Linked DNA regions of Homo sapiens: all the other regions are linked to region 2. Evidence: fine-mapped expression QTL. A gene starts in region 2. Each other region holds a variant in brackets. All regions are shown on one strand. Distances are from middle to middle.

What was found. PIP is the estimated chance that this variant, and not a neighbour inherited with it, causes the effect.
Region 1: its variant is the best candidate, but not a certain one, in a credible set for the expression of CBY1 in fibroblasts (GTEx, PIP 0.85).
Region 3: its variant is the best candidate, but not a certain one, in a credible set for the expression of CBY1 in prefrontal cortex (ROSMAP, PIP 0.54).

What each region holds. Positions count from the first base shown.
Region 1 is chr22:38,675,334-38,679,565 of GRCh38, reverse strand. It overlaps TOMM22-DT (TOMM22 divergent transcript), which reads left to right. Exons shown (of 2, transcript XR_007068097.1): 2 at 3,077-4,050. Among named protein-coding and RNA genes, the nearest start is that of TOMM22-DT, 4.4 kb to the left of the region's middle. The variant A/G (reference allele first, on the strand shown) is at 1,760.
Region 2 is chr22:38,654,070-38,658,301 of GRCh38, reverse strand. CBY1 (chibby 1, beta catenin antagonist) reads right to left here and starts at 1,664. Exons shown (of 5, transcript NM_015373.4): 1 at 1,552-1,664. FAM227A (family with sequence similarity 227 member A) reads left to right here and starts at 1,910. Exons shown (of 17, transcript NM_001013647.2): 1 at 1,910-2,182.
Region 3 is chr22:38,533,070-38,537,301 of GRCh38, reverse strand. The region is part of intron 12 of DMC1 (DNA meiotic recombinase 1); the gene reads left to right. Among named protein-coding and RNA genes, the nearest start is that of DDX17, 29 kb to the right of the region's middle. The variant G/TGTGG (reference allele first, on the strand shown) is at 1,892.

The sequences.
Region 1 (4,232 bases), 21 kb before region 2:
TCAGTCTCCTGAGTAGCTGGGATTACAGGCATGGCCCCGGCTATTTTTAATAGAGATGGGGTTTCGCCATGTTGTCCAGGCTGGTCTCGAACTCCTGACCTCAAGTGATCCAGCCTCCTTGACCACCCAACATGCTGGGATTACAGGCGTGAGTCTGGCCTATCAGACAGTTTTCATGTGACAAAAGGGTACTCCTGTATGATTCCATTATATAAAGTTCAAAAACAGGCAGAAACCAATCTATGATGAGAGGTCAGGACAGTGATTCCCTTGAAGGGGTTAATTTTGGAAAGGGGCAGGAGAGTAGCTTCTGGGATGCTATGGTTCTCTTAGGTCTGTGTTGATTTTGGGTAATTCATCAAGCTGTACACTTATGAACTATGCTTTTTTGCCTGTGTTAAAAAGGTTACTTTTTTAAAAAGAGCGGGGCTGGGTGCGGTGGCTAATGCCTGTAATTGCAGCACTTGGGGAGACTGAGGCGGGTGGATTACCTGAGGTCGGGAGTTCGAGACCAGCCTGGCTAACATGGTGAAACCCCCTGTCTACTAAAAATACAAAAATTAGCTAAGCGTGGTGGCAGGCGCCTATATTCCCAGCTACTCGGAAAGCTGAGGCAAGAGAATCCTTGAGCCTGGGAGGCGGAGGTTGCAGTGAGCCAAGATTGCGCCACTGCACTCCAGCCCGAGCGACAGAGTGAGACTCTGTCTCAAAAAAAAAAAAAAAAAAAAAAAAAAGCGGGCTAGCCCTTTATAATTTCGAGGGCAGCTTAAGAGCCCAGTGCCAACAGCTTTTAGTTCTTTTATGGGTTCATTTAAGAAATGCTAGAAGACTAATGCTATTGAACGTAGAGGGACCAATCTTATTTGAAAAGCACAGACATTAGTGACTCCAAATGGAAAGTAATTCGCAATGCTAATGTGGAGAAGTTTTAGGAAAACCAATGAATTTTGCTTATATTCATAAGAGCAACACATGATTTAAAAAAAAAAAACCTGTTTAAGGATGAAAGAGCTCTTTCAATGATTATAGAATTTCCAAGGGATAAGAAAAAATACTGGAAATCATGCAATGCAGAGTGTTCAGAACTTTGGGAGGAGATGAGATGATCTAGAAAAGATAGAGTGAGGCTGGGGGCAGTGATTCATGCCTATAATCCCAGCACTTTGGGAGGCTGAGGCAGGTGGATCACCTGAGGTCCAGAGTTCGAGACCAGCCTGGCCAACATGGTGAAACCCCATCTATACTAAAAACAAAAATTAGCCAGGCGTGGTGGTGAGCACCTGTAATCCCAACTACTTGGGAGACTGAGGCAGGAGAATCGCTTGAACCCGGAAGGCAGAGTTTGCAGTGATCCAAGATTGCACCACTGCACTCCAGCCTGGGCGACAGAGTGAGATTCCATCTCAAAAAAAAAAAAAAGAAAAGAAAAGAAAAGGCAGAGTGAGAACAGAAGACAGAGCCCTGGCCGGGCGCAGTGGCTCACGCCTGTAATCCCAGCACTTTGGGAGGCTGAGGCGGGTGGATCACGAAATCAAGAGATTGATACCATCCTGGCCAACATGGTGAAACCCCATCTCTACTAAAAACACAAAAATTAGCCAGATGTGGTGGCAGGCGCCTGTAGTCCCAGCTCCTCAGGAGGCTGAGGCAGGAGAATTGCTTAAACCCGGGAGTTGGAGGTTGCAGTGAGCCGAGATCACGCCACTGCACTCCAGCCTGGCAACAGAGCCAGACTCTGTCTCAGAAACAAAAAAAAAAG[A/G]CAGAGTCCTGTGGAATCAGACATTTAAAGATTGGGGAGAGAGGGAAACCAGAGGGCTGAGGAATTGCTGAAGTCTTCAAGAGGAAGGCTCAGCAGCAGAGATGACATGGTGAGACTGGTGCCAGGATGGAGGTCGCATCAGTGGACAAGGGTGTCAGCAAGTGAGTGGCAATGCCCCATGCTAGGAGCCCAGGTGACTGCCATCGGATGGGAGAGGCAGGTTCAAGAACGCTGGGCTCTTAGCTCCTCTACTCCCCATCTCTCGAGCCCAAGATTTCCACCTTGCTTGTTTCTGTCCTGTCAGAATTAGAAACATGTGATATAGTAGCTCTTAATTGGGGGGTGGGGGCATGGCTCCCTTCGAGAATCCTATAAAAACTATAAGCCCCTCTCATTAGAAAGTGCACATTAGCCCATGCCTGTCCTGTTGTCTGCGCAGTTCCCCTTGCTAGGACTCAAACTCGGTCTTCCTGCCATTACTGCCTCTAATCCTGCACTCATGCCCTCCCTCTCGTCCACAGAATCTTCTTTTCTTTTCTTTCTTTTTTTTTTTTTTTTGAGATGGGAGGCTTGCTCCTTTGCCCAGGCTGGAGGGCACTGGTGCAGTCTCGGCTCACTGCAACCTCCACCTCCCAGGTTCACATGATTCTCCTGCCTCAGCCTCCCAAATAGCTGAGATTAGGTGCCTGCCATTATGCCAGGCTAATTTTTGTATTTTTAGTAGAGACAGGTTTTTGCCATGTCGGCCAGGCTGGTCTCAAACTCCTGACCTCAGGTGATCCGCCCGCCTCGGCCTCCCAAAGTGCTGGGATTAGAGGCATGAGGCACCGCGCCAGGCCCTTTTTAAATTTTTTTTAAAGAGACGGTGTCTTGCCCTGTCACACAGGCTGGAGGATACAGTGGTGCAATCTTGGCTTACTGCAGCCTCGATCTCCCAGGTTAAGGGATCCTCTCACCTCGGCCTCCAAAGTAGCTGGGACTACAAGTGTGTGTCACCACGCCTGGCTAACTTAAATTTTTTTTTTGTAGAGATGGTGTCTCAGTATGTTGCCCTGGCTGGTCTCAAACTCCTGGGCTCAGCCCAATCCTCCTTCCTTGACCTCCTGAAATGCTGGGATTACAGGCGTGAGCCACTGTGCCTGGCCAATAAAGTCTTTGAGGATGAAGAATTTTAGCCAGAACCTGAAGGATATATCTGGCTCTATTTAGATTTGAAAATATATAATGTCTCAAGAAAAACAAAACAAAACACCTCGCTGAAGCAAACAGGGTTAGTGTGGCGATATATGGGTGATTTTTTTTCCTTTTCTCCTAAAGACTTTCATTCATGGGACTGTCCCTGATTCCCAGCCATCACGGGGAGGCTCTACCTTCAAGTGTTATCCAGAATCAGACCACCTCACCTCATCTACTGTGGCCTCCCTGGGATGGGCCTGGCCTCCTTCAGTCTGTTCTCACCACAAAGCCACCAGAAGGATCCTTTTATTTTTATTGATTGATTGATTGATACGGGGTCTGACTCTGTCAGCAGGCTGGAGTGCAATGGCACGATCTCACCTCACTGCAACCTCTGCTTCTTGGACTCAAGCAATCCTCCCACCACTGCCTCCTGAGTAGCTGGGACCACAGGTGCACACCACCACACCCAGTTAATCTTTTTGTATTTTTGGTAGAGATGGAGTTTCACCATTTTGCCCAGGATGGTCTCAAACTGTTAAGCTCAAGCAATCTACCCACCTCAGCTTCCCACAGTGCTGGGATTACAGATATGGGCCACCACGCCCAGCGCCTTTTAAAAGTGCAGTTGGATCATAGCATTTATCTGCTCATAACAATGGCTTTTGCTTCCCCGCTCACTCAAAAGAAATTCCTTCTTCACTGCAGAACTGCCCCTCCTACCACAGGATGTTTAGGGTTCCTGGCTGCAACCCCCAAAGGTCCTAATGGTGCTGGTCATGGGGGGATCCACACCATTGTGACAACGAAATATGCCCACATGATGCCCAAGGCTTCAGTCCTGGCCCCACCCTTCCACTGTGTCACTGTGCTGGGTTGGTTTTCTCATCTAAAACATGGTGATGGGGATAACAAACTTGAAAGAGTGTCATGCAAATGAGGTGTCCAGCATCGGGAGGTGTCCAGCATCAGGAATATTAATAAAGGGTCCCCAGTGATACCGGCCGAGGCATAAGCAAACTCCACTGCTCCTATTATCTGCACCTGAAGATTTACACCTTGCATATATGTGGATCCTTTTCCAATTTCTTCTGTATTAAACATTCTCTCCTGTATCAGAAAGTCAGGTTATGGGTTGGAGCTACAAATCTGCCCTTCGATCCATCCCCCCCATAGAGTGCTTTGCTGGCCGTAAGGATGGACTGCAGACAGCAGCTCCCTTTGAGGCCGCCCCCAGCTCCTCTCTTTCATAGCGGGCTGTGTGAATCAAGCTCCAGCACTTCTACTGTGTGATCCT
Region 2 (4,232 bases):
ATACAAAAATTAGTCGGGTGTGGTGGTGTGCGCCAGTTGTCCCAGATACTCAGGAGGCTGAGGCAGGATAATTGCTTGAACCCAGGAGGCAGAGGTTGCAGTGAGCTGAAATTGCACCACTGCTTTCTAGCCTGGGTGACAGAACAAGACCCCATCTCAAAGAAAAAAAAAATAGAAAAGAAAGAAAGAGATCTGGAAGGATACACCAAACTGTTCATAGTGGTTAAACCTGAAAAAGGGAATAGGATGACTGACTTGAATGAACTTGTCATTTTATAGGTTAAAAAAAGGTCAAATTGTGACAATTTCATATGGTACAATATAAAATTATATTAAATATACTCGAGATTTAATGAATTATTACAATGAGAATATATTCATGTATTACTTATGAACAAAATAAACAAAACACAGTTAAGAAGCAGCCCCCAGCATGCCTAAAATCTAGAGACATTTGAAGAAGGAGAAATAAGTCAAGTCCCCACTGATGCTAACTGCACTGGGCCTGAGCACATGGGCTGGACACAACAAGTTTAGGGGCCTGGCTCTCCCCTTCAGTTGCCTGCTAGACCTTGGCCCAGCTGCTTTACTTCTCGGGCTTTAACTGGGCACCTTACTCATGACCGCACTAATTCTCATAACACTACAGCTGGGAGCTGTCATCCATGTATTACAGATGAGGAAGGGTCTGGATTAGCTACCTTTTAAGTCAGATCTAATAATCCACAAACAGCTCAGCTGAGATCCTGGGATTCTGGGGCATCCGCGTGCACTTGAGATACAAGCTGTCCCACTGGCCCATGGCAACCTTCTTTCTAGTGAAACTCCCAGGGCGAGCGTGCTCCGCACACAGGAAGTGAAGGGGGAGCACCTGGCTTCCAATGATCACTCTGCGGCTCACCCACAGTGGGACCCCAGCATTTATCCCCCTTGGACTTCGGCTTCTTTCTTTGCACTGAGGAATAATAATAGTACCTGGCTCACAAGATGTTATAGTGTTTTAGTGTTTATAGGAAGCTGTGCACTTGATCCTCACAACGACCCTGGGAAGAGGATCGAGTAAGTAGAGCCTTCCCAGTCCACAGATACTGATACTAATCACTAATCATTGTGTAAAGGTTTTCCGTTTGCAACAGGCCATAAAATATATTATCTTACTTTAATTCTAAGAAAACAAGGGCGGAATCTCTGGTTTTCATCGGATTCTCAAAGATATACGTGTCCCCCAAGGAGTTCAGAGGTAGCCATGTTACGCAGATGCACGGCCCCCAGGGCTGTCGGACTCAAGTAACAGCTGTCAACAAACGTTCACACGCACGATCTCATGCAATCATCTTCACGGCGACCTACGGGGAGGAATTACCGCCCCAATTCACAACCGCGGAGACACACAGAGGAGGGCGGCCACCGCCCGGGGTCGCCCGGCCTCCGTCCCCTTCCCCAGGCCCTCCTGAAGCCTCTCTCCAGGCGAGGCCCGGACGTCCTACTCAGCTCGGGCCCCCGAGTGAACCCAGGCAGCGCTGGCCGGCGACGCCGGACTCGGAGACGTACCTGACGCGTCCCAGAAGCCGGGGTCCAAGCGCTCCCCGAACCCCCAGCAAGGACTCTGTAGCCCAGAGTTACCTTGACCCACCCGCCTCCTGCCGCCTGCCCGCCACGCGCATGCGCTGCCCCGCCCGGCCTCTACCACCGAGGAAAGGGGTAACCGGCGCGGGGGTTCCCAGCGCCAGCCTGCGCCAATCCCCAGAAACTCCGTGAATCACCTCGGGATAGCAAACGGATTATACAAAGGCAGTGTCTTCTGGGGTCCTTTTCATGCCTCTAGGACCAGGACCTGCATTCACCCTCTCCACTGACACATTGGTCTGGGCCCCCGGCCCGGCTGTCACCATAGAAACGGCATCTCGCGGACAACGCGGCGGCTCACGAAGGTTCCATTGTTATGCTAAACGGGAAAGTGGAGACCGCGCCGGCGTTGCCTAGAGAACGCCTGGACTCAGAGTAGCAAAATGGGCCTCTCCCCAACTCCCCTCCTCATCCCCCAGCACAAGGCAAAGGGCACCCCTTGCTGTGAGTTTGGGGGCACCGGCTGTCGGGGGCCGACCCAGAACTTTGCGGGGTCCCCTGAGGGACCCGTGGCGGGACCGGCCCCGGGTTCGTCAAATTCCGCCGATGCTTTCAGGTAAGACGGACGGACAGACGCACCATGACCCACCTCTGGCAGCCTGCCCCCTCCCCGTGCCGTTATGGCGGCTTCTACAAGCAAGGGAAGCTGAGGCCCAGGGACTACTTAAAGGTTGCATTGTGAGGAAGGGACAGAGAACTACTGGAGAATCAACTCCAGATCTCCTAGAGTCCTAAAAGCGTGTGTTATTGGTTCCGTCTGATAAGTGCAGAAACTTAGGCCGTTCAAGGAGTTTACCGGCTGCCTAGTGGGTGTATCAGGGCATCCAGTGAGGGGCAGGACCCAGGGGTCTTTGACTCCAAGCGCAGTTCTCTTCCAACTACACCACCCTGCATTAAAAGAGGGGAGACTTCCATGTCCTAGAACTAAAATCTTCACAATCTGGCTTAGCATTGTGCAATAGAAACATAAAGCAGGCCACATATGTGATTTGGAATTTTCTAGTAGCCACATTTTTTAAAAAGTAAAAAAGAAAGCCAAGTGAAATTAATTTGAGTAATGTTTTAAACTCCATATGTCCAAAACATTACTATTTCAAGATATAATCAGTATTTCTAAATTTGCACTGCTTCCATTTAAAAATTTAATTTTTTTTTTTTTTAAGACAGAGTCTCACTCTGTTGCCCAGGCTGGGATTGCAGTGGCATGATCTCGGCCTCCCGGGTTCAAGCGATTCTGCTGTGTTCACCTCCCAAGTAGCTGGAATTACAGGCACCCACCACCATGCCCGGCTAATTTTTTGTATTTTTAGTAGAGATGGCGTTTCACCATGTTGGCCAGGCTGGTCTCGAACTCCTGACCTCAGGTGATCTGCTTGACTCGGCCTCCCAAAGTGCTGGTATTACAGGTGCGGGCCACTGCGCCTGGCCAAAATTTGAATTAATTAAAATTAAAATTTTACTCTTGGCTGTTCTATCTATGGAGTAGCCATTCTTTTATTGCTTTACTTTAAAAAAATTTTACTTTTTTTTTTTTTCGAGACAGAGTCTCGCTCTGTCGCCCAGGCTGGAGTGCAGTGGCATGATCTTGGCTCACTGCAACCTCCGACTCCTGGGTTCACGCCATTCTCCTGCCTCCGCCTCCCAAGTAGCTGGGACTACAGGCGCCCGCCACCATGCCAGGCTAATTTTTTTTTTGGTATTTATTTATTTATTTATTTATTTATTTTAGATGGAGTCTCGCACTGTCGCCTAGGCTGGAGTGTGCAGTGGTACAATCTCAGCTCACTGCAAGCTCCGCCTCCTGGGTTCATGCCATTGTCCTGCCTCAGCCTCTCGAATAGCTGGGATTACAGGCGCCCGCCACCAAGCCCAGCTAATTTTTTTTTTTTTTTTTTTTTTTGGTATTTTTAGTAGAGATGGGGTTTCACCATGTTAGCCAGGGTGGTCTCGATCTCCTGACCTCATGATCCGCCTGCCTCGGCCTCCCAAAGTGCTGGGATTACAGGCGTGAGCCACCGCGCCCAGCCTTTTGTTTATTTTTTTGAGACAGGGTCTCATTCTGTCACCCAGGCTGGAGTGCAGTGACATCATCCCCACCTCCCAAAGTATTGGGATTACAGGTATGAGCCACTGCATTCAGCCTTAAAATTTTACTTATTCAGTCACATTAACCAAATTCCAAGGACTTAATTGTCACATGTAGCTAGTGCTATTTTGATGGCCAGCACAGTCTGGGCACTTCCTACCTTTCCAGCCTCACTTCCCGCTGCTTGGATGGTACATTTTGGATGGCATATTATTTCCGCTCCCCATTTTTTCTTTTTTTTTGAGACCGAGTTTTGCTCTTGTTGCCCAGGCTGGAGTGCAGTGGCGCGATCCGGCTCACTGCAAGCTCCGCCTCCTGGGTTCAAGCAATTCTCCTGCCTCAGCCTCCAGAGTAGCTGGGACAACAGGCGCCTGCCATCACACCCGGCTAGTTTTTTGTATTTTTAGTGGAGACGGGGTTTCACCGTGTTAGCCAGGATGGTCTGGATCTCCTGACCTCGTCATCCGCCTGCCTCGGCCTCCTAAAGTGGTGGGATTACAGGTGTGAGCCACCGCGCCCG
Region 3 (4,232 bases), 120 kb after region 2:
GTGGAGGTTGTAGTAAGCCGAGATCGCGCCATTGTACTCCTGTCTGGGAAACAGAGCAAGATTCTATCTCAAAAAGAAAAAAGAAAAAAGAAAAGAATTTAAAAATCATTAGTCTTTATGTGGGCACAAATATATCACAAATCACTTTATTACTGGGCGCAGTGGCTCATGCCTGTAATCCCAACACTTTGGGAGGCCTAGATGGTTGGATCACCTGAGGTCAGGAGTTCAAGACCAGCCTGGCCAACATGATGAAGCCTCGTCTCTACTAAAAATACAAAAAATTAGCTGGGCGTGGTGGCGTGCACCTGTAATCCCAGCTATTCGGGAGGCTGAGGTGGGAGAATCACTTGAACCTGGGAGGCGGAGGTTGCAGTGAGCCAAGATCATGCCATTGCACTCCAGCTTGTGCAACAAGAGCAAAACTGCATCTCAAAAAAAAAATCACTTTATTGCACAGTGTATATGACTTCATAATTGTAAATATCACTTGGTAACCAGAATCTATTTTTCTCTAGTTCTTTATAGAATAAAGCAATACTTTAACCATTTTCAGCAGTACTTTGGGCTTCTCTTTGGTCTAGGGCTAAAGGGGTATGGGAGGACAATAAGAAATAGATCCTAGGGAAATAAAAACTTATATTGCAGCTTATCAGTATAATAAACACCATTCATAAAAACAAAAAAGTCATCTTTCTACAGGATATACATGAGATATATTTATCAGAGGCACTATGGGAGAAGTCTCCTGTTTGAAGAAAAAGAATTTCAGTTCACACTAGGCATATTCAGAATTTGTTGAAGTGTTTGTGCACATAACTATTGATGACTCTGAAAGACGGCAGTGAATAGAAACACACAGAGAGCTAAAGTAGGATAATAAAAATAGATAAATCAAACAAAGGTTTGTTGCCACCGTAACAAATTTTGAGCATTATGTGTCTGAATAAGCAATCAAAATAATCCTAAATACACACCACTGCACTCCAGCCTGGGAGACAGAGCAAGACTGTCTCAAACAAAGCAAAACAAATCTAAATTCATGATAATGCTTTTTTAAAGTGTGTGTGTGTTTTTTTTTTTTAAGAGACAAGGTTTCACTCTGTCACCCAAGCTGCAATGCAGTGGCACCATCTCTGCTCACTGCAACCTCTGCCTCTCAGGCTCAGGTGATGCTCCAGCCTCAGCCTCCCGAGCAGCTGGGAGGCACACATCGCCACGCCTGGCTAATTTTTTTATTTTTAGAAGAGACAGGGTTTTGCCATGTTGGCCAGGCTGGTCTCGAACTCCTGGCCTCAAGCGATCCTCCCACCTCAGCATCCCAAAGTGCTAGGATTACATGTGTGAGCCCCCTTGCCTAGCCAAAAAGCTTTTAAAAAAATCTTTTAAAGGCTGGGTGCAGTGGGCAGTGGCTCACTGTAATCTCAGCACTTTGGGAGGCCGAGGTGGGAGGATCACCTGAGGTCAGGAGTTCAAGACCAGCCTGGACAACATGGCAAAACCCTGTCTTTACTAAAAATAAAAAAACTAGCCAGGCATGGTGGTGTGCACCTGTAGTCCTAGCTTCTTGGGAGGCTAAGACAGGAGGATCACTTGAACCTGGGAGGCAGAGGTTGAAGTGAGCCAAGATCGTGCCACTGCACTCCAGCCTGGGTGACAGAACAAGACTCCGTCTCAAAAACAAAAAAAAAAAAGATTTTTTTAAAGGTTTTTATTTAGAAAATATTTTTACCAGAGAGAAGTTAAAAAACTAGTGCAATGAATTCATGCCACTGCATTTCAGCCTGGGAGACAGAGCAAGACATACTCATTTATCTAGGTTCATCAGTTGTTAAATTTGCCACATTTTTTCTCTCTCCTGTATGTGTGTGTGTGTGTGTGTGTGTGTGTG[G/TGTGG]AGGTGTACATACACCTTTGTTTCTCCACACATACACACATTCTCATATGTATATGTATGTGGTATGTGTATACGGTTTTTTGTTTGTTTTTCTTTTTCTTTTTTTTTTTTTGAGACGGAGTCTCGCTCTGTCACCCAGGCTAGAGTGCAGTGGCACGATCCCAGCTCACTGCAGTCTCCGCCTCCCAGGTTCAGGCGATTCTCCTGCCTCAGCCTCCTGAGTAGCTGGAATTACAGGCACCTACCACCACACCCGGCTAATTTTTTGTATTTTTAGTAGAGACGGGGTTTCACCGTGTTAGCCAGGATGGTTTCTATCTCTTGACCTCACGATCCACCTGCCCCGGCCTCCCAAAGTGCTGGGATTACAGGCATAAGCCACTGTGCCCAGCCTCTTTTTTTTTTAGATGGAGTTTCACTCTTGTTTCCCAGGCTGGAGTGCAATGGTGCGATCTCAGCTCACTGCAACCTCCACCTCCTGGGTTCAAGCAATTCTCCTGCCTCAGCCTCCCGAGTAGCTAGGATTACAGGCACCTGCCAACCACCCCTGGCTAATTTTTTTTGTATTTTTAGTAGAGACAGGGTTTCACCACGTTGGCCAGGCTGGTCTCGAACTCCCGACCTCAGGTGTTCCACCCACCTTGGCCTCCCAAAGTCCTGGGATTACAGGCATGACCCACCGCACTCAGTCGTGTTTGTTTGTTTTTTGAGACAGAGTCTTGCTCTGTCACTCAGGCTGGAGTGCAGCAGCACCATCTCAGCTCACTGCAACCTCTGCCTCCTGGGTTCAAGCAATTCTCCTGCCTCAGCCTCCCGAGTAGCTGGGATTACAGGCGCCTGCCACCATGGCCGGCTAATTTTTGTATTTTTAGTAGAGACGGGGTTTCTTCATGTTGGCCAGGCTGGTCTCGAACTCCTGACCTCAGGTGATTCGCCCACCTCAGCCTCCCAAAGTGCTGGGATTACAGGTGTGAGCCACTACGCCCAGCCTGTATATGTATTTTTTGGTGAACCATTTGAGAAGTTTCTTCTGAACCACTGAAAATTATTCACAGACATCATGACACTTCACCTCTTAATACTTCAGCATATCTCTTCTAAGAATAATGATGTTCTTCTACATAGCCACAATATAATTATCACATTCAGAAATTCTAACATTGGCATAATAATGTTATCTAATATACAGTTGTATTCAAGTGTCTCCAGTTGCCCCAATAATGTCCTTTATAGTTGTTGGGGGTTTTTTTGTTTTGCATTCAATTCAGGATCAATTGAAGAACATGCACTGCGTGTAATTGTCATGTCTCTTTAGTCTCCTTTAATCAGAACAGCTCTTCAACCTTTGTTAGACTTTTATGACACCGACATTTTTGTAGAACACAGACCAACTGTTTTGCAATGTCCCTCAATTTGAAGTTGAATTTTTTCTTCATTACTTAAAATGTTAAGCATTTTGACAGGAAAACTACATAAGCAATATTATGGCCTTCTCAGTATATCATATCAGGAGGCACATGATGGCAGTTTGTCCCATTATTAGTGATGTTAATTCTGATCATATGATTAAGATGATATTCACATGATGTCTCCATTGTAAAAGAAAATTACAAAAATTCTCTTTTATATTTAATTAGTAATTTGTGGTGTGATAATTTGAGACTGTGTAAATATCTTGCTCTGCAATAAGCTTTCATGCATTTATATTAGCATCCATTGAAGATTCTTGCCTAAATTAATTAGAGTAAATTAATTATTACTCTGATGGTTGCAATACAAAGTGCTATTACTTTAAAACAGAAGCAATGCATCATATGGTAGCAGATTAAATGTATCATTGACAGATATATTAAAAGATATTTGATATGCTGGAGTAAATTCTGTAAATTACATTGAAATGAATGTGTCTCTCTTTAAGCATTTTCCAAATTTACCCTTAACAATTTTGCTTCATCTTTCGCAGTTTGATATCTATCTCTCACTTTTCAAGACTCTTTTTTTTTTTTTTTTTTTTTGTGATGGAGTCTCGCTCTGTCACTCAGGCTGAAGTGCAATGGCGCGATCTCGGCTCACTGCAAGCTCCGCCTCCCAGGTTGATGCCATTCTGTCACCTCGGCCTCCCTAGTAGCTTGGGACTATAGGCGCCCGCCACCACACCCGGCTAATTTTGTTTTTGTGTTTTAGTAGAGACGGGGTTTCACCGTGTTAGCCAGGATGGTCTCGATCTCCTGACCTCGTGATCCATCTGCCTCAGCCTCCCAAAGTGCTGGGATTACAGGCATGAGCCACCGCGTCTGGCCTCAAGACCCTTTTATAAGTATTTTCTACTTAGTTACAAGAG